3 separate regions of the Homo sapiens genome follow, and regions 2 and 3 are each linked to region 1. Evidence: fine-mapped expression QTL. A gene starts in region 1. Each other region holds a variant in brackets. All regions are shown on one strand. Distances are from middle to middle.

What was found. PIP is the estimated chance that this variant, and not a neighbour inherited with it, causes the effect.
Region 2: its variant is fine-mapped to the expression of ACSM5 in lung (TOPMed, PIP 0.93).
Region 3: its variant is fine-mapped to the expression of ACSM5 in lung (TOPMed, PIP above 0.99).

The regions. Positions count from the first base shown.
Region 1 is chr16:20,403,375-20,414,786 of GRCh38, forward strand. It overlaps ACSM5 (acyl-CoA synthetase medium chain family member 5), which reads left to right and starts at 6,160. Exons shown (of 14, transcript NM_017888.3): 1 at 6,160-6,291; 2 at 8,096-8,314. The coding sequence starts at 8,111. PDILT (protein disulfide isomerase like, testis expressed) reads right to left here and starts at 1,363. Exons shown (of 12, transcript NM_174924.2): 1 at 1,122-1,363.
Region 2 is chr16:20,421,135-20,432,546 of GRCh38, forward strand. It overlaps ACSM5 (acyl-CoA synthetase medium chain family member 5), which reads left to right. Exons shown (of 14, transcript NM_017888.3): 5 at 124-267; 6 at 2,782-2,935; 7 at 6,654-6,733; 8 at 8,544-8,667; 9 at 9,859-9,939; 10 at 10,086-10,187. Among named protein-coding and RNA genes, the nearest start is that of ACSM5, 17 kb to the left of the region's middle. The variant T/G (reference allele first, on the strand shown) is at 8,818.
Region 3 is chr16:20,433,467-20,440,056 of GRCh38, forward strand. ACSM5 (acyl-CoA synthetase medium chain family member 5) reads left to right here. Exons shown (of 14, transcript NM_017888.3): 11 at 3,586-3,713; 12 at 3,802-3,901; 13 at 6,334-6,453. Among named protein-coding and RNA genes, the nearest start is that of ACSM2A, 15 kb to the right of the region's middle. The variant T/C (reference allele first, on the strand shown) is at 3,739.

The DNA of each region.
Region 1 (11,412 bases):
CGCCTCCTGGGTTTAAGCGATTCTCCTGCTTCAACCTCCCTAGCAGCTGGGACTACAGGCACCCGCCACCATGCCCGGCTAATTTTTGTATTTTTAGTAGAAACGGGATTTCACCATGTTGGCCAGGCTGGTCTCAAACTCCTGACCTCAGGTGATCCACCTGCCTGGGCCTCCCAAAGTGCTGAGATTGCAGGCGTGAGCCACCGTGCCCAGCAGAGATTTCCTTTCGACACAGGAATTCCATCACACCACTGTGCCTATCAAAAGGTGCTCACTTTTGTGCAAAAAAAAGCTTCTGCCTCTTTTTTTTTTACAATCCATTCGCAAAACCGCACACCAGCCAAACTGTTCTCTGTGGTCTACCAGGCCCCACTGGCTCTGGACCCATCTGACCTTATCGCCCTCCTCTCTCTCTCTCCTCCCGCACTCTGGGGAGCCACACTGGCCTCTTCCCTTTCCCAAGCACACCCTACCCGGGGCCTTTGCCTCTGTCTGGGGCACCCTTCCCTCACATCGTCAGCCTTTTCTGGTTCTCTGGGTCCTAGCTCGAATCCACGCTCATCAGAAGGGTCTTCCCGGGCCACTCTGTCTCACCCCATCTCAGCTTTCAGCACTCTCTGCCATATCACCATTGTTTGCATCATATTTTGTATTATTATTTATGAGTGTACTTTGTTGTTGTTGTCATTTTGAACTTTTTAATGTAAATACCATTGTTCACAGCTGTTTTCTCCCCTTCAGAACAGTGCCTGTACCAGATTTGGAACTCAATGAATGTTTGTTGAATGAATGAATGAATGGCCTAATTTAACTCTTACAGCAAACCCCATTGGTTCATTTCAGTGGTTCTCAACCATGACTATGCTGAGAATCTCTTGGAGAGTTTAATAAAAAATACTGATGTTCAAACCCAAACCCAGTAGGTTCTAATTTAATTGATCTGGGGTTGGGTGAGTCTGGGCATTATTATTATTTTTTAAAATCCTCAAGTTGATCCTAATGTGTAGCCATCTATACACCAAAACTGACACTTAAAACTTAAACTGGTGACTCCTGGTAGAGAAAAGCCTCCCAAGGCAGGGCCCATCAGTCAGATTTCCCATTTTCACTGAAGCTCATACCTGCAGGAAGCCAAGGCCACTCCCAGGGTTCCTGGGGCCAAGGTGGGGCTGTGCTGGGGGTGGGGCCACAAACTCTGTGGCCCTTAAGAAGGAAGGTTGTAGCCTGAAGAGGAGGCTCCTGGCTTCTCCTTGTGATCAGGGCAGGACCCGCAGACGACTGGGCATTCTAAAGAATCCACAGGCAGAAATGAAGTCCCTTCCTGGGCACACAGAGGCCACAGCAGCCTCAGCAGCAAAGTTCTGAGTTCTGGGGTTCTAGAGGACCAGGGGTGACCCTGTAGAAGAATGGGCCATTGTTGAGTAAGAGGGGGCCCTGCCTGGCAGCCCTTGCTGAGTTTGCTTGAGGGGCTAGAAACAAAACTCAGTGTGGGGTGCTGGGTATGGCCCAGGAGGGCTCTGAACTCAGTGCCTATAGATTGGAATTTGAATCCCAGCTCTGTCTTGAACAGCTGTATGGCCTTGAGAATGTCACTTACTCTTTCTGAGGTTCAGTTTCCATGCCTGTTACATGGCATCTAACTCATGGGGGTGTTGTAAGCAAAGTAAATTATGTGGAATTTAGAAGATAATTAATGATATGAAGAAAAATAAAACCTGGAAGGATGATGAGGAACGCCTGAGAGGGGGATGGGATAAAATAAGAGGATTTATGCAAAACGAGCAGCTCAGTACCTAGAAGGCAGGAGCCCCTCACGCATCACCACCCTGGCCTCATCTCCTAGGGGAGAAAGATCTCCACTCACCCTGCTCCAGCCACACTGGTGTCCCTGCCAGTCCTCCAATACAATGTCTGGGCCTCTACACTTGTGGTTTCCCCTGTTAGGGAGGCTCTTCACCCAGGTGGACTCAGGGTTCACCCCTTAGCTCGTTCCAGTCTTTGCCCAAATGTCACTTCCACAGTTGGGCCTTTCCTGGCCACTTTGTTTAAATTTGTAAGTGCCCCATCCCCCTCTCAGGCGTTCCTCATCCTCCTTCCAGGCTTTATTTTCCTTCATAGCATTAATTTTCTTCTAAACTCCACATAATTTACTTTGCTTACCTGGTGATAGGTGCTCAGTAAATATTTGTTGAATGAATAAAGAAAAGGCTGTTGATATTATTAGCATCGTTATTACTGTCAGAGTTTGCAGCCTTTGGCTATCTGCTGCCCAACTGTTATTAAATACTGATGGAGATGACTAACATTCATTTCACTAAATTTTAACATCTGTGGGTTTTAGTCCTAGCGCTTTGCTCTTCTCTTTCTTTTCTTTTTCTTTGAGACAGTGTAGTGGCGCGATCTCCACTCACTGTAGCCTTCACCTCCAGGGTTCAAGCGGTTCTCCTGCCTCAGCCTCCTGAGTAGCTGGGACTACAGGCATGCACCACCACGTCTGGCTAATTTTTGTATTTTTAGTAGAGACGGGGTTTCACCACATTGGCCAGGTCGGTCTCAAACTCCTGACCTCAAATGATCTGCCTGCCTCGGCCTCCCAAAGTGCTGGGATTACAGGCGTGAGCCACGGCATGCGGCCCCACTCTTCTCTTTCCATACTTAACTTCCATACTTTTGTTGGCTTGTTTAAATGCATGACTTCAAATACACCCCTTTATAAGTTACTCTCTCATTTACTCTCCAGGATTTGATCAATTGATTACATTTACTATTAAGACCGTTTTCCATCTGCCTATTAGAAAAGCTCTTTTTGGTTGAACCACACTCACTGAATATCTGAATGTCTTAATTTGAACTCATCATGTCCCTTTCAACTTTTCTTGGCAATTATTCCTTTTCTGGATGTTGTGTTTGCAAATAATTCCTGGGATGTGTTTGACTCTTTTTTCTCCCAGGCCTAAATCAACAATCTAGTCTGGCATATATTATTTTGACATCTTTCACACTTGTCAACTGTTAGTCACAAACTAAAACACTTGGGTTATTATCCCAAATGTCCTTCATTCATTTTCCTTCACTCTTGCACACAGTTGTTTCTTGACATAACATAGGCACTTTTATGATGATACTCATTTACTGATAAAGCTGCTGCTGCTTTTTTTTTTTTTGACAGAGTCTTGCTCTCTTGCCCAGGCTGGGGTGCAGTGGTGCAATCTTGGCTCACTGCAACCTCCGCCTCCTGAGTTCAAGTAATTCTCCTGCCTCAGCCTCCTGAGTAACTGGGATTACAGGCATGCACCACCACGGCCGGCTAATTTTTGTATTTTTAGTAGAGACGAGGTTTCACCATTTTGGCCAAACTGGTCTCAAACGCCTGACCTCAGGTGATCCACCTACCTCGGCCTCCCAAAGTGCTGGGATTACAGGCGTGAGCCACTGTGCCCGGCTTAAAGCTTCTTTTTATAAAATAACATTAATTTCTTTCTGATTAGAAAAGAACAGGATTTAATTTCTAAAACATAGAACATACAGAAAAAATGAGTTAATTGAAATCATACATCATCTTACTTAGAGAAACATTCATATTTTGTTACGTATGGGATTAATATATACTTTTTAAAAATAAAATTGTGATTATATTGTCTATAAAGTGTATCCAGTTCTTTCATTGAACATTTATGAAACATTTGTCATGACTTATGATTATATATTCTTCTAAAAAGTACTGATTGAGAGTAACGATATTGAGATTAGACTGCTGGAGAAATAATGTTCAACAGTCCGTCCACCCCTCTGAGGGTAGAGATTGTATCTTTACATCTGGCTGCAGATTCAGAGATGAGGTTGTATCCTGGGTCGCAGTAGAGGACTGAATGCTGAGCAAATGGACATTGAGGGCTCATAAGATGGTTCCCTGTGGCCAAGCTTGGCGGCAAGGGAGAGGAGCTGCCTGCGTGGAAATGGGCCAAACTGGCCAGGCCAGGAAATGAGACAGAGTCACAGGGGAACAACATACAGTGATGGATAAAAATCCAGGGTGAAGTTTGAATCACTGCAAAGATAGGCAGTTAATGGCTCAGCATCCTCTCTATAGGACACCCATAACCCTGTCATTTGCAACAACATGGATGGAACTGGAAGTCATTACATTAAGGGAAGTAAGCCAGGCATAGAAAGCAAACATTGCACATTCTCGCTTACCTGTGGGAGCTAAACAGGAAAACAAATGAACTCATGGAGACAGTAGAAGGACGGTTACCAGAGGCTGGAAAGTGTTGCAGGGAGTTGGAGGAGAAGTGGGGATGGTTAATGGGTACAAAAAAGTAGTAAGAGTGAATGAATAAGGCCTAGTATTTCCTAGCACAATAGGATGACTATCTTCAAAAATAATGTAACCATACACCTAAAATAACTACAATAGTATAAATGGATTGTTTGTAACACAAAGGATAAATGTTTGAGGTGATGGACACCCCATTTACCCTGATGTGATTCTAACGCATTGCATGCCTGTATCAAAATATCTCATGTAACCCATAAATGTATATACCTACTATGTACCCACAAAAATTAAAAATAATTTAAAAAGAACTTCAGAGAACAAACAACAAAAAGACCGGTATGGCTGGAGCAGACTGAGACAGGAGGTTTGAGGCGAAAGGCTCACAGGAATTCCTGTGGGGCCCTGTAGGCAATTGCCAGGACTTTTTTTTTTTTTTTGAGACGGAGTCTCACTCTGTCTCCCAGGCTGGAGTGCAGTGGCACGATCTCGGCTCACTGCAACCTGTGCCTCCCAGGTTCATGCCATTCTCCTGCCTCAGCCTCCAGAGTAGCTGGGACTACAGGCGCCCACCAGAGTAGCTGGGACTACAGGCGCCACCACGCCTGACTAATTTTTGTATTTTTAGTAGAGACAGGGTTTCGCCGTGTTAGTCAGGATGGTCTCAATCTTCAGACCTCGTGATCCGCCCGCCTTGGCCTCCCAAAGTGTTGGGATTACAGGCGTGAGCCATCCCACCCGGCAATCGTCAGGACTTTGGCTTGGACTGTGAGTGAGATAGGGAGTTGCAGGAAGCTTTTTCGAAAAACCACCTTTGGGCCAGGTGCAGTGGCTCCCACCTATAATCCCAGCACTTTGGGAGGCCAAAGCAGGCAGATCACTTAAGGTCAGGAATTTGAGACCAACCTGGCCAACATGTTGAAACCCCATCTCTACCAAAAAAATACAAAAATTAGCCAGGCATGGTGGTGCATGCCTATATTCCCCGCTACTCGGGAGGTTGAGGTGGGAGGATCGCTTGAACCCGGGAGGTGGAGGTTGCAGTGAGCCAAGATTGCGCCACTGCACTCCAGCCTGGGCGACAGAGCAAGAGCCTGTCTCCAAAAACAAACAAAAAAACCCAAAAAACTTCTTTTGGCAGTGTACAATTATTATTACTATTTTTTGTAGTAAATTTACAGAGATCTGCAGTCATGACCACAATCCAAATTTAGAACAATTCTATGACTTCAAAGGGATGCCTTAGAGCCGTTCCCTGGAACCACTCCTCTGTTCTCTCTGTATCTACTGGAGGGTTCTAAGCAGAAAAGAAACAAAGTCTGACTTATATTATTATCACTATTGCACCTTTTCTGTTAAAACATCATAATCCCAGCACTTTGGGAGGCCGAGGCGGGCGGATCACGAGGTCAGGAGATCGAGACCGTCCTGGCTAACACGGTGAAACCCCGTCTCTACTAAAAAATACAAAAAATTAGCCGGGCATGGTGGTGGGCGCCTGTAGTCCCAGCTACTCGGGAGCCTGAGGCAGGAGAATGGCGCAAACCCGGGAGGTAGAGCTTGGGGTGAGCCAAGATCGCGCCACTGCACTCCAGCCTGGGCCACAGAGGGAGACTCCGTCTCAAAACAAACAAACAAACAAAAAAAAAAACCCGTCATAATCTTCCTGTTGCTTTTTCCGATTAGATGGCGACTTGAATTTTTAGGGAATACATCCACCAGTTTGGGCACACCCACCAGGCACGACAGTTGAGGTCTGATCTTCCAGCCACTGTGAGTACTGAGAAAACTTGGCAGGGGGCCACTCTCACTGGCTCAATGCACCCTGACCACTGGAAGCCACTGTGTCAGCTGCTGGGTTCTGGCTCTGCCCACTCTTGGCTGCATTTGGGGCTGAAGTTCCCTGTGGGAGGCTGTTTTCTGAGGGAGCTGAGTGTTTACAGCCACTCAGCCCTGCTCTGCTCAGCTGAAGCAGAAAACAGAGACCTTTTGCATTACTTTGGTTCAAGAGCAAGGTAATTTGGAAAGAAATTTTTCAGACGAAGGTATCAGCTGCCTCTGAGGCCTTTGCTGATTAAATCAAGAAGTGACATCTGAAATGGTGTCGGGGAATGGGAAGGAGGCCTGGGGATTCTAAATTATCAGCTGTTTAGGTGGCTGAGGAATCCAGGGGTGGGAGACTGAGGAAAAGGACTGGGGCAGAGCTCAGTTCAGGAGAGGTGAGGGGCGGGAGAGGTGAGGGGCGGGAGAGGTGAGGGGCGGGAGAGGTGAGGGGCGGGAGAGGTGGGTCAGAGAAAGGAAGTCTCTGAGGCTGCAGGCCTAGGCCTGGTGGCCACTGCAGAGGCTGGGGCCTATGTTTTTCCAGGAAGTGAAACCTGAAAGTCACTTTTCCCCTTTAAGCCTCATTTTCTTTATCTTTAAATGGAGAAAATAACATTTACAGCATAGAGTTGTTATAAAGATTTCATGAAATAATGCCTCTAAGCACTCTTAAAATGCTTGGTACACAGTAGGCCTTCAATAGACTGAAGCTGTTATGGTTTTTCTTGTTGTGCCACGTTATTATTGTTGGTTGTTATTACCATATTTTGTTATTATTATTACTAAGAGGAATTTAATGCAAGGAAACTGAAACTGAGGTCACACGCAGCTCCCGGGCCAGTGCCTCTCAAACTTTAACATGCATATGACTCATCTGAAGATCCCGTTAACTTGCAGATTCTAATTCTACATATGTAGGGTGGGGTCCCATCTGCTGGTCCCAAGATCACACTTTGAGTAGCAAGACACTAAAACTGGGCTGGGCACAGTGGCTCACATCTGTAATCCCAGCACTTGGGAGGCCGAGTTGGGAGGATCACTTGAGGCCAGGGGTTCAAGCCCTGCCTGGGCAACATAGTGAGATCCTGTTTCTACAAAAAAACTTTTTAAAAGTTAGCCACACATGGTGGCTAGTGCCTGTAGTCCCAGCTACTAGGAAGCCTGGGGTGGAAGGACTGCTTGAGTTTGAGGCTGCAGTGAGCTATGATGGCACCACCGTACTCTAGCCTGGGCAGCAGAGTGAGACTCTGTCTCAAAAACAACAATAATAAAAATTTTAAAAATAATAAAATTAAATAAAAAAATTAAAAAGACACTAAAAGCCCATCATGCCATACAGCAGCCACTTGTGGCTTTTGAGCACTTGAAGTGTGGCTAGTCCAAATTGACATGTGTTTGTAAGGGTAAAGTCTATTTCAGATTGTGAGGACTTAGTACCAAAAAAAACAAAAAATAAATAAAAGTATGTAAAATATCTCTTTAACAATTTATTCTTCTATTGACTAGGAATTGAAATGGTCATACTTTGGCTCTATCTGGTTAAATAAAATGTTTTATTATAATAAATCTCACCTGCTTCTACTTTTCTTAATGGAAGTACTAGAACATTGTAAATTGCACAGGTGGCTCACGTTCTATTTCTGTTGGACAGTGCTGCCCTAGAGCTGTCTTCAGCTTTGCAAGGTCAGTTCAGGATTGGCCAAAGCCTTTTTGAGGGATTCCTTTTGAAGTATTGAGGTTTGAGAAGTGGGATCTGAGTTCTGACCTCAGACCCAGATACCCACAAGTCAGTGAGAGGTCAAAAGGACAGACCTCGGGGTCAGAGGAGAGAAATGACCATCACACAGCAGAACTGAGACTGAAGGTGGAGAGTTTATTCTACAAGTCAGTAAGGATCACAGTCACCATCAGCACTAACCACAGGTTTCTCCTAACCTATGTGTTGTCCCCAAAGCCCAGAATTTATGACAATGCCCTCTTTCCTCTCTTTGGTGACAGACAGGAGGCGACTGCATGAGACCATGGCTGAGACACCTAGTCCTCCAGGCACTGAGGAACTCCAGGGCATTCTGTGGGTCTCATGGGAAGCCAGCACCTCTACCTGTTCCTCAGAAGATCGTGGCCACCTGGGAAGCCATCAGCCTGGGAAGGCAGCTGGTGCCTGAGTACTTCAACTTCGCCCATGATGTGCTGGATGTGTGGAGTCGGCTGGAAGAGGTGAAGCCTGTTCTGTCCTAGAGTCCATCTGGGGCATCTGAGGCTGCCCTCATGTACCACAATGAGACTCAAGGCTCCAAGCATGTTGATGAGGAAATTTGGACCTGGGAATTTTGCTAGTTCTAAAATGTAAACTGTTGGCATTTGAGACTTAGGAAAAAATTCTGAGTCAGTGTTGTGAGCCTTAGACATGCTTGTTCCTTCTCTGAAGTGTCCTGCATTCTTGAGCCCAAATCACACAGTGAGACAGTTATGTCCCTTCCGATTCCCTTCCAGTTGTTCATCAACTGAAGGAGGAAGTTTTGTTTTGCTGCTACTCTGTCTTTGATGTTTTTCTCTCACTGTCACGCCCTTCTCTTCTAAATAAGGAAAGAAGGCCGGGCGCGGTGGCTCATGACCATAATCCCAGCACTTTGGGACACCGAGAAGGGCAGATCACCTGAGGTCAGGAGTTCGAGACCACCCTCACCAACATGGTGAAACTCCGTCTCTACTAAAAATAAAATAAAAAAAAATTACCCAGGCATGGTGGCGCACACCTGTAGTCCCAGCTACTTTGGAGGCTGAAGCATGAGAATTGCTTGAACTCGGGAGGCAGAGGTTGCAGTGAGCCAAGATCATGCCACTGCACTCCAGCCTAGACAACAGAGTGAGACTCCACCTCAAAAAATAAAATAAAATACAACAAAACAAAATAAAATAAGGAAAGAATAGGGCTCAGGCTCAAAGCTTTTTGCAGATCATAACAGATACATAGAATTGAATAAGATAACCCTGATTTCTTTGTGTGTCTCTGTGCATCTGCTTTCTTCTTTATTTTCCCTTATATCTGTGTCTGTTGGGTCTCTCTATTTCATGGTTACCTTTTATTTGTGTTACATGATACTAACTTTTCATTTATAAGAGGAAGACATACTTCTAAAACTGTATTTCAACCAATGTGAAGCTTAACCAATGAGAAAAGCCTTTTCCCTAGGGGTTTTTGTCCAAAACAATTACGGACAAATGTTTAACTTCATTGTTGCCTAAGGTGGTGGATAACAGTAGGCACAAACAATAGATTCACCAAAAAGTGAAAAAAGAAAAGCTGGAGAATACAAAACTGGAAATATAAAATTTAATTCAAAGAATTGTATTCATGTTAATTATAAGAAGAGATTGTTTAAAGAAAAAATATGAAGTAAATGGCATTGTTAGTAGATACAATAAAATTAACTGTCAGCAGATGTAGTGAAACTTATGAAGGTGGTATGAGGATGACTGAGACTTAAAAGCAGGATTTGCAGTCAGATAGACATTGTTCATCCGTGTACTTGAAGTGTGACCTTGGACAAGTGCCCTAAGTTCTTTAGATCTCAACTTTCTCATCTGTAAAATGGTAGTCAGACCATATGCTACTTAGAGTAATAGTGAGAATTAAATGAGAATTGCATGTAAGACATGAAGCCAGGATGCTCCATTCCTGATGGCCTGCAAAAATCTAAGTTCTTTTTGCAATACTAGGGGTATCCTTAGAAGACTTCTCCTAATGATAAAAACAAGCAAGCAGGATTAAGTCAGGAAAAAAAATGGTAGAATAAGGACTTTCCAGCTATGTGGTAGCCTTGAAAAATAACAGCCCCCATTTCTGGTGCATCACGGCAACCATTAGATGGGCCAGAATGGAGTTGGAGTTTTTTCAAAGCTTCACTTATGAAGAACTGTTGTTATTTGAGCTGCCCATTGGTTCTTTGGAAGACCCTACTTGTAAAACTGTATTTGAATCAACTTGAAGCTCAACCAATGAGAAAAGCCTTTTCCCTGGGGGTTTTTGTCCAAAACAATCACAGACAAATGTTTTAGCTTCATTGTTGCCTAAGGTGATGGATAACAGTGGGACAAACAATAGATTCACCAAAGAGTGAAAAAAGAAAAGCTGGAGAATCCAATGTCTATGGGAGCTTTAAAAAATTCTATTGTATTCCTGGAAATCTAGAAATCAACACACCTAAGTAAGGCTGTGTGCTTTCCTAGGGCTTTGCACACGCTTAGAAAAGATCTGAGGAAACTCTAAGCTCGCACTTCTGGCAGACTGAGAGTTGGAGCATGCAGGAAATTAACACTAAGGCAGGATTGTTAATTGCCTGGCTGAGTGCTAAAGGTGTGCCCCAACACCCACCCAAAGACTGGGAGATTTATTGGTTTCAGGCATTTAAAGATATTTCTGTCTAATCATAAGATGACTACTAAGCTAACCAAGTAGATATCTCAGTGGCCACACAGAACAAATAATGCAGACTTCACAGAAATGGTTCACAAAAATCACTAAACAAATGACAACAAGCAGCAACAGCAAACCAAACTCTGGGGAGTTGTGGGGAATGGGTGGGGGTGGATCTGATTTCCTGAGTAATCACATGATGTAATTTTAAATTTATAGTTTTCAACAAAAATTTACAAGATACGCAAAGAAACTAGAAAGAGCATGGCAATGGTTATCAAAATAATGCACCCCTTCCCCAAGATTTTTATACCTTAATCCCTGAAACCTGTGAGTATGTTATCTTACATGGCAAGAGACTTTGCAAACATGATTATACTAAAGATATTCATATGAAGAGATTATTCTGGATTATCTGGATGAGCCTAATATAATCATAAGGTACCCTATGAGAAGGCAGGAGGGTCAGAGTCAGAGAAGGAGATGTGACAATGAAAACAGAGGTGGGAGTGATGTGGGGCCACGATCCAAGGAATGTGAATTGCCTCTGAAAACTAGAAAATGCAAGGACACAGGTTCTCCACTAAAGCATCCAGTAGGAAAACAATTCTTCTGACACCTTGATGTTAGTCCACTAAGACTGATTTTGAACTGTTTATCTCCAGAACTATAAGGCTGTATATTTGTGTTGTTTTATGCAATTAAGTTTGTGATAATTTATTACAGCAGCAATAGATGGGATTATTCAAAACCAATACAGATTTTGGCACCAAGAGTAGTAATGAGAGCTGTAATAAATACCAAAGGATGTGAAAGTAGGTTTGGAATTAGGTGATGGGTAGAGGCTGGAAGAATTTTGAGGAGCACGGAAAAAAGCCTAGATTGCCTTGAGCAGACT
Region 2 (11,412 bases), 18 kb after region 1:
TTCAGCACAGCACCTCACATGTGGTATTTATGAAACGGTAGTCATATTGTTGTTACACATATTATTGGTGCTACTAACTGTTTTTACCGTGGTAGTGCCACCTAGTGTATTTACGTTTTACAGGGAGGCTTCTACAGAGCACAACTGCATGAGGACAAAGAGTCGAGACCCGCTGGCCATCTACTTTACCAGCGGAACCACCGGGGCCCCCAAGATGGTCGAGCACTCCCAGAGCAGCTACGGACTGGGTTTTGTGGCCAGCGGAAGGTACCAGAGCAGCTTGTCTAGAGGATCCAAGAACAGAAAGTGGGGAGTGGTCTGGAGGGGGTGGTGTGAGGGGAAAGGTGTCAGGAACGGAGGTCAGAGAGCCAACAGAATTACTGAGAAGCCAATAGGAGCAGCTTAGGAAGGATCTTGATGGTTCTGGATTTTACTCTGAGTGAGGTGAAAAGCCATGGGAGGTTTCTTTTTAAATCGTGGCTATATATATATATATATATATATATATATATATATATATATACACACACACATATATATACATACATACACATATAAACATATATATACATATATCATAAATGTACCCTTTTAACCATTTTAAGTGTACAGTTTAATGTCATTAAATACATTCACATTGTTGTGCAACCACAATCACCATCCATTTCCAGAATTTACTTTATCTTTCCAAATGAGAACTGTGCCCCCATTACCCAATAACACCCCATTACCCTCTCCCCTCACCCCTGGTAACCTCTATTTTACTTTTCATCTCTGTGAATTTGATACTCTAGGTATTTCGTGTAACTGGCATCATGCAGTCTGTCCTTTTGTTTTGCAATTTGGCTTCTTTCACTTAGCATAATGTCCTCAAGGTTCATCCGTGTCATAGCATGTGTCAAAATTTCCTTCCCTTTTAAGACTGAAAAATATTCCATTGTATGGATAGACCACATTTTATTTATTTTTATTTTTTATTTTATTTTTATTTTTTTGAGACAGAGTTTTGCTCTTTTGCCCAGGCTGGTGTGCAGTGGTGCGATCTCCACTCACTGCAACCTCTGCCTTCCAGTTTCAAGCAATTCTCCTGCCTCAGCCTCCCAGATAGCTGGGGTTACAGGTGCCCGCCACCACACCCAGCTAATTTTTGTATTTTTAGTAGAGACCGGGTTTCACCATGTTGGCCAGGCTGGTCTCGAACTCCTGACCTCATGATCCTCACGCCTTGGCCTCTCAAAGTGCTGGGATTACAGGCATGAGCCACTGCACCTGGCCTCGACCACATTTTAAATAATCCATTCACCTGTTGATAGACACTTGGGTAGCTTCCACATTTTGGCTATTGTCAATAATGTTGCTATAAACACTGGCATGTGAGTATCTGTTAGAGTCTCTGCTTTTACTTCTTTTGGATATACATGCAGAAATGAAATTGCTGGATCATATGGTAATTCTATGTTTAATTTTTTTTGAGAAGCATTGGGTATTTTGAGCAGAGGAGTGACATAATCTAATATGTTTTTTAAAGGCTCACTCAGGATGTTGGGTTGACAATGTAACTGTAGGGGAAACAGGTAAAGAAGATGACCAGTGCATTAAGAGGCAAGCATGGTAGCTTGCCCGGGGAGCAGTAGTGGGAGAAGAGATGAGATTCTGAATGTATTTTCAACCTAGACCCAATAAGGCTTGCTGACAGAATCAGTGTGGAATGAGAAGGAGGAGTCAAGGAGAGCTCTAAGAGGAATGGCCTGAACAACTGGAAGCACTAAATGATGGGGGAAGAACTGTGGGATGAGCTGTCTGGTGGCAAGAAAACAGTTTGTTTATGGAGTTGTCAATTTGAGAGTCTTCTTAGAAATCTCCATCTCCTTGTTAAAAGTGGAGATGTTGAGTGGGCATTTGGATACACATGTCTGAAGTTAATGAGAAAGATTCATGCTGAACTTATCAGTGTAAAGATGGTATTTCATACCATGAGATGGGATGAGATCAGCAAAGTGTAATATAAACTGAAAAGAGAATGGGTCTCAGGACTGAGTGCCCGAGGCATTTCTGCACTGAAGGGGAAGACCAGGAGGACTCAGCAGAGGAGACTGAGAAGGGAACAGCCAATGAAATGGGGAGAACCAGGAGTGCGCGTGTCCCAGGATTCAAGTGCATGACCGCTTTTTATGTCTTCCATGTTTGCAGACACTGTTTCCCATTCCTGGGATGCTCCTGCTTCTCTGCCTCACCTATATAATCCCTATTTATTCTTTATGTCTAACTCAAGTGTCACTTCCTCTACCAGAGCATTTCTCAGAAACCCATGTCCATCATTGCTCTGGGTTAGGTGCCTATTCTCTATAATTGCACAAGGCTTTGTGTTTAGCTCTATTAAAACATGCTCTCCAGGGGCTTCCTATAAGGCCCTCAAAGCAAGACTAATCGTTCATTTCTAGATCCCTAGTGCTAAGTCCAGACTAAATGCTAAATAAATGTTGGCTAAATAAAGTGACCTTAGCACAGAGTATTGAGGTTAATTTTTTCCCCTTATATATCACATCCACTGGACTGTGAACTTTCTGGAAACTCTTTTTGCTTCTGTATTCTTAGCCTAGGGCATAGGTACATGGAAGATGCTGGTTGAGACAATAGTTGACTTGATGGTCTTGTTCAGGTTTCACAAGTATAAGTGAGTACCCACTGAGCAGGGCTCCAAATGTGGTGATATAGATAATACAATCCTTTTTAAAGGTAGAGTCATTGCCAAGGTTACTGACGTTCTCTAATTTTTGGCAGACGGTGGGTGGCCTTGACCGAATCTGACATCTTCTGGAACACGACTGACACTGGCTGGGTGAAGGCAGCCTGGACTCTCTTCTCTGCCTGGCCTAATGGATCTTGCATTTTTGTGCATGAGCTGCCCCGAGTTGATGCCAAAGTTATCCTGAATGTAAGAGGAAAAACCAACAATACCCCATATGTGTTGGGTACAAATGAGATGAGTGGGATATAGATTTCAGACTGCAGGAGAAAACACATAAATCAGTGAATTTAAGGCTTCTTTGGTGTGGCTCCCTGGCCTTCCATAATCTGGTTCCTGACCACCTGGTTCCCTTCAATCATTGCCTATGCTCTAGCTACATTCCTAGATGTAAGACCATTTTGTTGCTATTTCTTTTGCATGGGGTGCCCTTGTTTCCACCACTTTCTTCCCTATGCTCCTGCCAAAACCCTAGGTATTTGTCAAACCCTTAGGCAAAATCAGTCTATGCCTCAACTCCAAATGCTACTGTCCATGGTTCTTAACATGAGTAGTTGGCCCAACTAGAGAGTCCTGGTGACTCCTGCTCAGCCTCTCAGGGTCTTCTCATGGGGAGGGAGGAGATTGGTGGCCCCAGTCAAGACACAGGTCACCTTTCTTCCACCCCCCACATCCTGTCATTCCTTAAAATGTCAGAGGACACTTCTGCTCATATTATTTGTACTGAGATAAGCTGTATCACATGGTAGCTAACTGCATAGGCTGTGCCATCAGTCAAAGAGTCAGACCTGGACTCTGATCCTACACCTTTGATTCGCTAGCTGTGTGGCCTTGGGGAAGCTGCTTAATCTCCTGAGCTGCAGTTTCAGCCTCATCTGTAAGAAAGGGATACATTTCTCTATAGATTTGCTGCGAGAATGAAATGATACAAGGCAAAGGGGCCAGCACATCATAGGTTCTTTTTTGAAATAATTTTTAATTTTTGTGGATACATAGTAGGTGTATATATTTATGGGGTACATGAGATGTTTTGATGTAGGCATGCAATGCGTGAAAATCACATCATAGAGAATGGGGTATCCATACCCTCAAAGCATTTATCTTTTGTGTTACAATCTAATTATACTCTTTCAGTTATTTTAAAATGTACAATTAAGTTTTTATTGACTATAGTCACCCTGATGTGCTTTAAAATAACAGGTCTTATTCATTCATTCTATTATTTTGGTACCAACTAACCATCCCCACCTTTCTCCCAGCCCCCGACTACCCTTCCCAGCCTCTGGTAATCATCCTTCTAATCTCTATTTCCATGAGTTCAATTGTTTTGACTTTTAAATCTCACAAATAAGTGAGAATATGTGAAGTTAGTCTTTATGTGCCTGGCTTATTTCACTTAACATAATGATCTCCAGTTCCATCCATGTTGCAGCAAATGACAGGACCTCATTCTTTTTTATGGATCCATTGTGTATATGTACATCTTCTTTTTCCATTCATCTGTTGATGGACACTTAGGTTGCTTCAAAACATAGTAGATTCTTTTTTTAAAAAAAAATTATTTTCATAGGTTATTGGGGAACAGGTGGTGTTTGATTACATGAGTAAGTTCTTTAGTGGTGATTGTAAGATTTTGGTGCACCCATCACCTGAGCAGTATACACTGCACCCAATTTGTAGTCTTTTATCCCTCACCCCCTTCCCACCATTTTCCCCAAGTCCCCAAAGTCCATTGTGCCATTCTTACACCTTTGCATCCTCATAGCTTAGCTCCCACTTATGAGGGAGAACATAAAATATTTGGTTTTCCATTTCTGAGTTACTTTACTTAGAATAATAGTCTACAATCTCATCCAGGTCCCTGCGAATGCCATTAATTCATTCCTTTTTATGGCTGAGTTGTATTCCATTATATATATTTATATACCACACTTTCTTTGCCCACCTGTTGATTTATGGGCATTTGGGTTTGTTCCACATTTTTGCAATTGCAAACTGTGCTGCTATAAACATGTATGTGCAAGTATCTTTTTCATATGACTTCTTTTCTTCTGGATAGATGCCCAGAAGTGGGATTGCTGGATCAAATGGTAGTTCTACTTTTAGTTCTTTAAGGAATCTCCACACTGTTTTCCACAGTGGTTGTACTAGTTTACATTCCTACCAGCAATGTAGAAGTGTTCCTTGTTCACTGCATCCATGCCAACATCTATTATTTTTTGATATTTTGATTATGGCCATTCTTGCAGGAGTAAGCTGGTATCACATGGTGGACCAAATATAGTAGATTCTTAACCCATATTGATTGTTATCATCATGATCAAACTCATCACCATCATTATCCATGTAGTGCTTGATCAGCCAATGTATGGACCTTCTCCTTGCACTGTCCCCAGCTCTGATATAGTGTTTTCATTATCTATTGCTATGTAATAAATTATACCGAAACTTAGCACTTTAAAACACAAGCATTTATCTCACAGTTTCTGATGGTCAGGAAGCTGGAGGTAGCTTAATGAGGGGTTTTTGGAGCAGGGTCTCTCATGAGGTTGCAATCAAGAGGTCAGCAAGGTATGCTCATGTTCATAGCAGCATTAACAATAACTAAAAGGTGAAAGCAACACAAGTGTCCATCCACAGATGAATGAATAAACAAAATGTGGTGTATATGTACAATGGAATATTACCCAGCCTTAAAAAGGAAGGACATCTTGTTGTATGATATAACGTGGATAACCCTTGAGGACATTATGCTAAGTGAAACATGCCAGTCATACAAGGACAAATACTGTATGATTCCACTTACATGAGATTCCAAGAGTAGTCAAATTCATAGAGACAGAAAGTACAATGGTGTTTACCAGGAGTTAGGGGAGAGATTAATGGGAAATTATTGTGTAATGGGTACAGAGTTTAAGTTTGAGAAGATAAAAATAGTTCTGGAGGTGGATGGTAGCGATGGTTGCACAACACTCTGGAAATGTTTAATCCCACTGGACTATACACTTAAAAACCGTTCCAATGGGCAAATCCTATGTTGTGTGTATTTTGCCACAATAATTTTAAAGAAGATATTTGCTAGGACTGCAATCATCTTAAGGATTGACTGAAGCTGGAAAATTGCTTAAAAGTTCACTGGTGGCCGGGCACAGTGGTTCATACCTGTAATCCCAGCACTTTGGGAGGCCAAGGCGGGTGAATCATGAGGTCAGGAGTTAAAGACCAGCCTGGCCAGGATGGTGAAACCCCGTTTCTACTAAAAATACAAAAATTAGCCGGGCCTGGTGGTGGGCACCTGTAATCCCAGCTACTCAGGGGTCTGAGGCAGAGAATTGCTTGAACCCGGGAGGCAGAGGTTGCAGTGAGCTGAGATCTTGCCACTGCACTCCAGCCTGGGTGACAGAGTGAGACTCCATCTCAAAAAACCAAACAAAAAACAAAACAAAAACCTCACTGGTGGTTTTTAGTAGACTTCAATTTCTCACTGGGTGTTTGCTAGTCTCCAGTTTCTCACTGTGTGCACCTGTCCGTAGGATGGCTTGAGCATACTCAAAACATGGTGGCTTGCTTCCCCCAGAACAAGGGATCCAAGAAAGGCAGAGAGAAAGAATATCCAAGACAGAAGCCATAGTCTTTGTATAACCGAATCTTGAAAGTGGTATTCATCACCTTGGCAGTATGCCATTGCTGTCACAGACCCACTTTGGTATGAGGTGAGAGGGGATCCTCCAAAGGTGCACATGCCAGGAAGTAGGAGTCACTGGACACCATCTTGGCTGCTGGATTCCACACATAGTTTTCAGCTTCTCTGCTTTGGTACTGAGACTATAAAGATGCATTTGGCTCCATCTTCATGGTCCCACCCCAATGATTCTAAGGACATCTTTCACCCTTTGTTTTTGTTTAGACTCTCTCCAAATTCCCGATAACCACCCTCTGCTGTGTCCCAACCATCTTTCGGCTGCTTGTGCAGGAGGATCTGACCAGGTACAGCCCGTCTATTTCGTGCTTTGAGGGCCTAAGTATGTGAATATATAGCATGGGTATCCACACACACAACTACCCTCTCATTCCAACTCTCTTTCTTTCTCTGTCTCTCCCTCTATATATTTTTCTGCCTCTCTCTTTGTCTCTCTCTCACACACACATTTATACACGTACACATTGACAAGTCAACATACCTGTAAATCTCACAGATGCCCCTCAAGAACAAGCTTCTGGCCCCCCAAAATTTGCATCCAGATGGAACTAAATAGATTTAAGGCAGACTGAAATTTTAGCACCTGAGATAGGCTTCTCCTCACACCATACACCCATGGGCTATTCTGTCAGCAGTGTGTCTGCTACTTCTGTGAGGCGAGAGAAATGATTGGAAAATTGTTAGCCACCTGTGGAGTGGGGTCTGTGGCCAGGGCCCTCAGGTGTGGTGAAACTAACAAGCCCGCACCGCAGTAGATGCCCCAACTCTCAGCCTCAGACTAACCCCAGCCAACTGTTCTCTGAGCACATGCCATTGGGCACCCAAGAGAAAGGGACAAGGCACTGATGATGGCTCCATCCTGGGTGAAGCCAAAGCAACATCTTCTAGCAGAACAGGGCTGGTTGCTGGGGTATATGGAGAGAGGCCCACTGTCCTTCAGTATCCACCAACCCTGACCTGTTCTCCCTCTTTTGTCCTCCCGTAAGTCATGAGGAGTCGTCCTCTCATCTTTCCTAATCACATGAATCTACCCACCAAGTGTCCAAAAAAGGGAGTTCTTACATGCTTCTAAAAGTGAATTCTTCTCCAATGTAAGAAAATCATCCCATTCATTGATCTGATGTGTGCATCTCCACATGATGATTTTGGCTGAAAGCAAGCTCCAAGTACCTCGTTAAGAACAATGTCGTTGAATGCTCTTTGGTAATAATAAGTAACTTAATCAAGCCAATTTGATCTCCCCTCTCCTCCAAGATTAAAAATGTACTTGCAGTCACTGTTCTTTTTTATAATTTGGATGATTTGTTGAACAGAGAGGGCATTTTGCAACATAATTAATATCTGTAGGAATTTTTGGGATTCTTAGGGGTCTAATTTTTATCTTTTCCATTTTCTTTTCTTTCCTTTCTTTTCCTTTTTCTTTTATTTTTATTTATTTATTTATTTTAGAGACAGAGTCTTGCTCTGTTGCCCAGGCTGGAGTGCAGTGGCATGATCTCAGCTCACTGCAACATCTGCCTCCCAGGTTCCAGCTTTCCTCCCACTTCAACATTCCAAGTAGCTGGGACTACAGGCATGTGCCACCATACCCAGCTAATTTTTAGTATTTTTCGGTAGAGACGGGGTTTTACCACGTTGACCAGGCTGGTCTTCAACTCCTGAGATCAAGCAATCTGCCCACCTAGGCCTCCCAAAGTGCTGGGACTACAGGTGTGAGCCATGGTGCCTGGCCTATCTTTTCAATTTCTAATTCATCTATCCTTTTCAATCAGATTACTGTCCTAACCAATTTATTATCAGTTTTTTTCCAACTAAATTATTTTGGCCAAGTTACCTGGAACTCACCATATTATGCCAAAACCTATTATATGAGCTTCTGATTTTATCTCAAACTCAGATAGGATGGATCTTTTAAAAATTATCTGTCCATGAGGAGCATGGTTGCAAAGCCAGTGGGTGGACTCACTTAGAGAAGATTAAAAAGCAGGGGCATCTACCCTCTAGTGCCTGTGGTGTTTGCATCTGGGCAGTGGCACCAGAGGGCGGGGTGATATGAAGATCCTGACATAGGTGGCCTTGTTTTCCTGTCTGAGAAAGGTACCAGTTTCAGAGCCTGAGGCACTGTCTGACCGGAGGAGAGGCCCTCAACCCTGACGTGAGGGAGAAGTGGAAACACCAGACTGGTGTGGAGCTGTACGAAGGCTATGGCCAGTCTGAAACGGTGAGTGCTGGAGGGGCCAGGTCCCTACCCCCCAGGTCCCCTCGAGAGCTTCCTGCCTCTCCGGCTGTCACCTCCCTGAAGCTTCTCAGGGACCACCCTTCCCCCAGGGGAGAAGCTGATAACAAAATTCCATCAGCTTTCCTTCCCTTT[T/G]GATTTCCATATGTTCTCACTTATAAGTGGGAGCTAAGCTATGAGGATGCAAAGACATACAGAGTGGTATAAAAGACTTTGGAGACTCAGAAGGAAGAAGGTGAGAGGAGGGGCGTGAAGGTAAAAAAACTACGTATTGGGTATAATGTACACTACTCAGCTTACAGATGCACTAAAATCTCAGGATTCACCACTATAGAATTCATCCATGTTACAAAAAAACGCTCGAACCCAAAAAGCTATTGAAATACACACACACACACACACACACACACACACACACACTACTTATAAATTAAAAAAAGGTAATTTAAAGTACTTTTACAATTATACCATGACCAGCAAACCAGCCCTCACTGCTGAAGGCATTGTTTGTCTCCACCAAGACAGTCTACATCTGCCACTGTTCAGAGTCCAAGATTCTAAGCAGCGTCCTCTATAGTCATCTAGGAAGAGATCTGGGGATCAACTGAGTCTTTTGGCTTAGAGATGGGTTAAGTTCTTTATGTTTGAGTGCCCACTGGAGTGCCCCATAATTGTTTGTTAACTATGGAAAGAAAAGAAGAAAGACAGGCAAGAAAGAGGGAAGAAAATAGGAAGAAAATGAAGAAGGAAGGGAGGGAGGAAATAAAGGAAAGAGAAAGGAAAAGAAGGAGGAAAGGAAGGGAAAAAGATGAATGGAAGGAAGGAAATAGGGAACAAAGAAGAAGGGAGGAGAGAGGAAAATGGAGAATGAAATAACGGGGAAAAGAATGAAAAAAAGGAGGAAAGAAAATGAAGGAGGGAAGGAAGAAAACAGGAAAGGGGAAAGAAAGGAAAGAAAGAGGAAAGGAAGGAGTGAGCAAGGAAGAAAAAAGAAAAGAAAGAAGGGAGGAAGAATGGAGAGAAATGGAGAGAGGAGAAGGGAAAGAAAGAAGAAAGTGAGGGAGGAGAAAAAAGAGGATGAGAGAAAGAGTTATCAGGCAGGGTGAGAGAAAGGCATGGCCCAGGAAAGAAGCTAAGTGGAAAGGCTCTTCTTTATCTGTACTGCGTTCTCCCCAGGTTGTCATCTGTGCCAATCCAAAAGGCATGAAAATCAAGTCTGGATCCATGGGGAAGGCGTCCCCACCCTACGATGTGCAGGTAGCAGCCTCCCCCAACTTCTGGCAAGGCCTGGCATGGAGAGGAGAAAGACACACAGGCCTGGTTGGCACGGGCTGCTGGGCTGCTGGGAGAGGCCCAGGGTGTAGACACTCACGTATGCACCTCTGTGATGATTTCCTTACCAGATTGTGGATGATGAGGGCAACGTCCTGCCTCCTGGAGAAGAGGGGAATGTTGCCGTCCGTATCAGACCCACTCGGCCCTTCTGTTTCTTCAATTGCTATTTGGTAAGAGACGGGGAACAGCCGTTCTCATGACAGTGACTGTGTGCTAAGCATTGTGCACCACACTTTGTAAATATCTATTTGTTTAATCCTTACAATGACTGCATGAGGTAGGTTGCTACTATTATTAATAAAGTTCTGTTATTGATAAGGAAGACTATTATTGATAAGGAAGCTACTACAAAGGGGAAGTGACTTATCCAGCATCATGCAAATAGTACAGGCAGGACATGGGATTTAAATGTGGGTGTGTCTGAAAGCGTAAACATGACATGAGGGCAGCACTGTTGTTTTAATGAGGTGAAAATCGAGGTACAGTAAAGGAAAGGAGCTTCTGAAGGTCAAACTGCAGCCGGGTGCAGTGGCTCACATCTGTAATCTCAGCACTTTCAGAGGCCGAGGCAGGTGGATCACCTGAGGTCAGGAGTTCAACACCAGCCTGGTCAGCATAGTGAAACCCCGTTTCTACCAAAAATACAAAAATCAGCCAGGCATGGTGGCGCACGCCTCTATTCCCAGCTACTTGGGAGGCTGAGACAGGAGAATTGCTTGAACCAGGGAGGTTGCCGTGAGCCAGGATCATTCCACTGCCCTCCAGCCTGGGTGAGGGAACGAGACTCCGTATCAAAAAAAAAAAATAATAATAATAATAAAATAAATAAATACATAAAGGTCAAACTGCACTATTGTGTCAGAGCTGTCTTCAGGATTCTCTTTGTGGTTTGCTAGCAGGGCACAAACCTGGGATTTCAGTCCAAGTTTCTGGGATAATTCAGTAACTGCTTCTCTTTTGTATTCATCTTGGGTGGTGTTTATGTCGGGCTTTCTTTTCTTCACAGCTTTCTCTATAAAACTCTCAGACCTGGCTGTGCATTAGAAACACCTGGCAAGCCTCAGTTATTGCTGATGCTTGAGCCCCACCTCAGCTTAATTAAAATCAACATTTCTGTTGGTGTGGATCAGTTTCCCAGGCGATTCGAATGTCAAGCCTGAGAGCCACTGCTTAATAGAAATGCCATCTCATGTGTCTACTAAGCTGTCAATCAGCTACAGAATTAGAAGGAGCAGAAATAAATCAGTCCATTTCTTTTCAAAATGTTGCATTTTAGTGGTTTTTCTGTCACTACAAGAGAAATAATCTTCTACTTTATTTTGTTTAAAATCACAGAAACTTACAAAATCCCACAACATAGTAATCATGCCAAGCTGAGATCATGTTAACATTTAA
Region 3 (6,590 bases), 28 kb after region 1:
TTATAACAGATAAAAAAGGTGGAGGGACTATCTAAATTTCTAATATCAGAAATTAGTTATGTAAAGGATTATATTATAGCATTGTGAACAAAAGCAAAAAAACAAAAGAAAAGGAGAAAAAGAAGAGAGAAAAAATTTTAAAAAAAGAATCCAGGAATTTGTTCAAATGCATAATATCACCACCACACAGAAATATTATGCAACTATTTAATACAATTTTTTTTTGGAAGCAGGGTCTCCTTCTGCCACCAAGGCTGGAGTGCAGTGGCACAATCATGGCCACTGCAGCTTTGACTTCCTGGGCTCAGCTGATCCTCCCACCTCAGCCTCCTGAGTAGCTGGAACTACAGGCACATGCCACCACACCTGGCTAATTTTTTTTTTTTTTTTTGTAAAGATGGGGTTTCACCATGTTGCCTAGGCTGGTTTTGAATTCCTGGGCTCAAGTGATCCACCTGCCTCAGCCCACCAAAATGCTATGATTACAGGCATGAGCCACCACTCCCAGCCTATAGGAGTTCTTAATATATTCTTGATATCGGTCCTTTGTTTGTTTTAAGAGTTGCTAACATCTTCCTCCTTGGTTGTAGCTTATCTTTTCACTTTCTTTCACTTTCTTTAAGCTATTTTTGTTGAACAGAAGCATTTATTTCCATGTCATCAAATCATTAAGTTTTTAAATGTTATGGATAGTGCTTTTTGTGTCTTATAAAATCATTTTCAACTTTAGGGTAGAAAATACACATATTCAATAGTTTCTTCCAATAGTTTTATAATTCTGCTTTTGACATTTAAGTTTATAATCCATCTGTGGTTGATGTATGCATGATATGAGATAGGGGTCTATTTTATTTTTTTCTATATGAAAAGCCAATTTGTTGAATAAATCCTCCTTTTCCCAGTTATCTGTCATGCTAATTTTGTCAGATATAAAAGTTTAATATAGGCCAGGTGTGGTTGCTCACGACTGTAATCCTAGCACTTTGGGAGGCCAAGGCTGGTGGATCACCTGAGGTCAGGAGTTCGAGACCAGCCTGACCAATATGGTGAAACACCCTCTCTACTAAAAATACAAAAATTAGCTGGGTGTGGTGGCGGGCACCTGTAGTCCCAGCTACTTGGGAGGCTGAGACAGGAGAATTGCTTGAACCCGGGAGGCAGAGGTTGCAGTGAGCTGAGATCACACCACTGCACTCCAGCCTGGGCAATAGAGTGGGACTCCATCTCAAATAAATAAATCATTTTTTAAAAGTTTGATATAGTCATACATAGGCTTTGGCACTTTCTTGTATTTCCTTGATCACTTACTCTGTCTCTGTACTGATACCATAAAGTCTTATCCACAAAAGCATTACCATAAGTCTTCACATGTGGGAGAACAACTCTAACCTTGTTATTCAACTCATTTAGAAGTGTTTTACCTATTCTTAGCCCTTTGCTCATTCATTTGTATTTTAGAATCAACTTGTCAAGTTCCTTGGAAAATGTTTGCTAGCATTTTGATTAGAATTGTATTGCCTATAAAACAACTTAGGGATAATTGACATCTCTATTAATTAAGTCTTTTTTGTTTTGTTTTGTTTTGAGGCAGAGTCTTGCTCTGTCACCCAGGCTGGAGTGCAGTGGTGTGATCTTGGCTCACTGCAGCCTCCGCCTCTCGGGTTCAAGTGATTCTCCTGCCTCAGCCTCCCAAGTAGCTGGGATTACAGGCGCCTGCCGCCACACCTGGCTAGTTTTTGTATTTTTAGTAGAGATGGGGTTTCTCCATGTTGGCCAGGCTGGTCTTGAACTTCTGACCTCAGGTGATCCACCTGCCTTGGCCTCCCGAAGTGCTGGGATTATAGGCATGAGCCACTGCACCAGGCCGATTAAGTCTTTCTTTCACTTTATTTATATCTTCTTTAATGTTGTGTAGAGTTTTAAGTTTTCTCCATACACATCTCAGAGATTTTGTGTTAGATGTATTTTTAGGGTAGCTTATATTTTTTCTTTTTTCTCAGAAGGTCCTTGTTGAATTGAGATATAATTTACCTACAGTAAAATTCACCCACGTTAAGTGTGTAAGTCAATGACTTTTAACACATGTCCGCCCCTGTGTAACTGCCACCACAGTCGAATAGGGAACATTTTTCACTCCCTTGACAGGCAATCCTCTCCACTCCAGACCCAGCGATTGATACATTGTTTGTCGTCAGTATATAATAATTTTGCATTTTTAAAAAAGAACTTCATGTAAATGGAATCACAAACTATTCCAGTTTATCTGTCTGGGTTCTTTTACTCAGTATGATGTTTCTGCAAGTCATCTGTGTGGTTTCATGTATTTTTATTGCTGAGTAGTAGCTTTTTCTTTGAAACTTTGAGAATCAGAGTTTCATTGTTTTTCTCTTTCCTCTACTCTTGCCCCACACCAATGAGCTTTTTGGTGAGCCCTTCTCCCACCCTCCCTTTCTTTCTTTCTTTCTTTTCTTTCCTTCCTTCCTTCCTTCTTTCCTTCTTTCTTCCTTCCTTTTTTCTTTCTTTCTTTTCTTTCTCTTTCTTTCTTTTTTCTTCATTCTTTCTTTCTTTTTCTTTCTTTCTCTTTCTTTCTCTTTTCCTTCATTCCTTCTTCTTCCTTCCTTCCTTTTCTCTTTCTTTCTTTCTTTTTCTCTTTCTTTCCTTCCTTCCTTTCTTTTCCTTCTTCCCTCCCTCCCTTCCTCCTTTCCTCCCTCCCTTTTCTTCTCTCTTTCTTTTCTTCCTTCTCTTCCCTTCTCTTCCCTTCCCTTCCCTCCCCACTCTCCTCTCCCCTCCCCTCCCGTCCCCTCCCCTCCCCTTCCTTTCCTTTGTTTCCTACTTGAAGTCTTGCCCTGTAGCCCAGGCTGCAGTGCAGTGGCACAATCTTGCAATCTCATCCTGTAGCCCAGGCTTGAGTGCAGTGGTGCAATCTCACAGCCTCGCCCTATAGCCCAGGCTGGAGTGCAGTGGCACAATCTCAGCTCACTGCAACCTCTGCCTCCCAGGTTTAAGCAATTCGCCTGCCTCAGCCTCCCGAGTAGCTGGAATTACAGGCATGCACCACCACACCCAGCTAATTTTTTTGTCTTTAGTAGAGACAGGTTTTCACTATGTTGGCCAGCTGGTCTCGAATTCCAGACCTCAAGTGATCCACCCACCTCAGCCTCCCACAGTGCTGGGATTATAGGGATGAGCCACCACACCCGGCCTAGCCCTTCACTTTCTACCCTCAGTGATTCCTGAGCACAAAGAGTATTCATGTGTTCTCTTGTCCTAAAAACCACAGCCAGTGGCCCTGTGCCCACCCTCCTGCTTTCAACTATGCTTTCTAGACCCCCTTCTAAGGATGGTGGTGGGTGACTGCCCTTAACCATTGGCTGGCAGCTTGATTCCAATCAAAAGAGGGAAATCCCACAACTAAACAGGGCCATAACTCCCTGTCCATTGGGGAACTCTGGGCAGCCGGGACTTTAGGAACTGCTGAACTTTCTGTTGAGTGGTCTCCAGCTTCCTACAGGGGGCTACTGGGGCAGTAACTGGCCTTAGCAGTTGTTCCCAGAGGGTCCTTCACGGGTTGTCTTTGTCTTTCAGGACAATCCTGAGAAGACAGCTGCATCAGAACAAGGGGACTTTTACATCACAGGGGACCGAGCTCGCATGGACAAGGATGGCTACTTTTGGTTCATGGGAAGAAACGACGATGTGATCAATTCTTCAAGGTCAAGCTGTCTGCACTTTCCTCCT[T/C]CCTTTGAAATTTCATGGGGGTTGAGGGAAGCCCACTTGGAAGAGTTTGTTTTTCCCTTCCAGCTACCGGATCGGGCCTGTTGAAGTGGAAAGTGCCCTGGCAGAGCATCCTGCTGTCCTGGAGTCGGCTGTGGTCAGCAGCCCAGACCCCATCAGGGGAGAGGTAACCAGTGCACCCAAGAACATGGCCTCCTGCTTCTGTACCTATTAGCACCCAGCAGAACAAGCAGGAAGGCTCAGATTGTCCTGTATTTCACCTCCATCCTTGTGCCACAAAGTTGAAATGCCACCATCAGACACACGTTGCCTTCATGTCTTTAGAGATACAATTACTCTCTAAAGGGACATAATGGGAAAACACCAACACTTTGCTTTTAAATGGACACAACTACATCCCAGAGAGGCTGGCTATGGGGCAGGAGATCTTGGGGGAGGTGCAGGCTCTGTTATCCATCCTGTCTAATAAAAAGTCTTTTCTATTTGCAGATGAGGACATAGCAAGCACACCAGTAATAGTTGCTGATGGCTGTAACCTAAGAGGGATAGAATATGTATCCAAAATGACCTACATATACCAGAAAGATGGGCCAAATTTAATAAGCTGGGCTTTCATAGGAGAAATCCTTTTTTTTTTTTGAGATGGAGTCTTGCTGTGTTGTCCAGGCTGAAGTGCAGTGGCATGATCTTGGCTCACTGCAACCTCCGCCTCCCAGGTTCAAGTGATCTTCCTGCCCCAGCACCCCCCCCAGTAGCTGGGATTACAGGCACATGTCACCACACCTGGCTAATTTTTGTATTTTTAGTAGAGACAGGGTTTTGCCTTGTTGGCCAGGCTGGAGGTCTTAAACTCCTGACCTTAGGTGATCCACCCACCCCGGCTCCCAAAGTGCTGGGATTACAGGCGTGAGTCACCGTGCCCGGCTAGGAGAAATCTTTCTGTGGGTCCCAGAGGAATGCATATTATGGGAAAGATCAGCTAACAGGCAGACTTAGGTACTTTTCACTGGCTTACATCCAACATAATCCTAAAGCACAACAGTTACCTTTTGAAAGTTAGTGCAACATTAGCCTGCATTCTCAGAAGCATCAAGACCACAGGAGAGATTCTCAAAGTCTGGTTCTTGGACTGCTTGCAACTGTATCATCTGAGATTCTTGTTTAAAATATAGATTTGTAGACCTAAAGTCAGACTTACCAAATCATGATTACTGGGAATGCAGCCCAGAGAATCTGCATTTTAGCCAGCCATTCTTGGCCAAGTGATTCCCCTCTAAAATCCAAAGCCATTAATGTATAATAAGGGAGGTGTGGAGTCCCATTGATGTGCTGAAGAAATCATACCTCAAACGTATGCCTAGTTCTGCATGCCGTGAGTTAACTGGGACTGTGACAAATGGCTGTGTGCTCAAACTTAATCCATGTATGGTGCTTAGAACTGAGTCTGGTGTGTAGAAAGTGCCCAACACATAAGCCGGACACGGTGGCTCATGTCTGTAATCCCAGCACTTTGGGAGGCCGAGGCGGGTGGATCACGAGGTCAGGAGATCGAGATCATCCTGGCTAACACAGTGAAACCCCATCTCTACTAAAAATACTAAAAATTAGCCAGGCGTGGCGGTGGGCGCCTATAATCCCAGCTACTCGGGAGGCTGAGGCAGGAGAATGGCGTGAACCCAGGAGGCAGAGCTTGCAGTGAGCCGAGATCACCTCACTGAGCTCCAGCCTGGGCGACAGGGTGAGACTCTGTCTTAAAAAAAAAAAAAAAAAAAAAAAAGTGTCCAACAAATGTTTCGTAGTTACAGTAGTAAGAGTAAGAGGAAGCTCTTTCTAAAAGCATATCTGTCTGAACATGAAATGATAGTGGCCTTCCTCCCTGTGGGAAGTATGCAAGGACAGTGAGCTACCCCTTTAATAGAATACTGTTAACAGATAGGAATGCTGGAATTAATAAGCATCCAAGTGACCTTCCATTCCTAACAGAAACTATGTTTGTTGTGCTTGAGTCTGGGACACTTCCTCCTGCCTGGCATAAGACAGCCTGCAGGAAAGTTGTGGGCAGAGAGACCCAAGATGCAGAATGTCCCTCGGGATGTCTGGAACAGAAGTGGTGCAGTTCAGGGTCTGCTGATTGCAAATGTTCATCCACGCAGACCCCCAAAGACCTAGTTCCCCTTGCAAGTGCCTGCATTTTCCTCAATCCCACCTGTTCAAACTCATGCCTACCTACCTTTCTCATTAGGAAAATCTGGAAGAAAATGGCCCTAGGAGTTTATGAACCTCTTTTCTCCAAAATATTTGCTTCTTAAGAGAAGCGATGTTGGCTTCAAATGGTGTCATTCCAAGTATGGGGAGTAATTTGAGAAAGAGGTAGGAGTTTGAAATCATCCCAGAAAGGTCAATCCTCCTAATAGTCACACCTGGAAGGGCCAGCAAAAGAAAAATTGATGTTGTTTGTGTCATTGGCTGTGCCCAAAAAAAACTAGTAGAACTTTCATGGTGCAAAGGTAAATGTAGGCACTTATTCAAGCCTCACTTAAGGAGAAAAGAGTTGTTATACGAGGCCTGATCTTTTCTGGGTATTTTGTTTTCCTGCAGGTGGTAAAGGCATTTATAGTCCTTACTCCAGCCTACTCCTCTCATGACCCAGAGGCACTAACGCGGGAACTCCAGGAGCATGTGAAAAGGGTGACTGCTCCATACAAATACCCCAGGAAGGTAAATATCAGGGTTTCCAGGGCACAGTGATCTGGGAATCAGATGGGCACGCTCTGCCTGGGCTCCCACTCAGAGCCAGGCCCTGTGCCAGGCACTGGGGATATGGAGAAACTTGTAACCCTGGCTGCTGCTTCAGC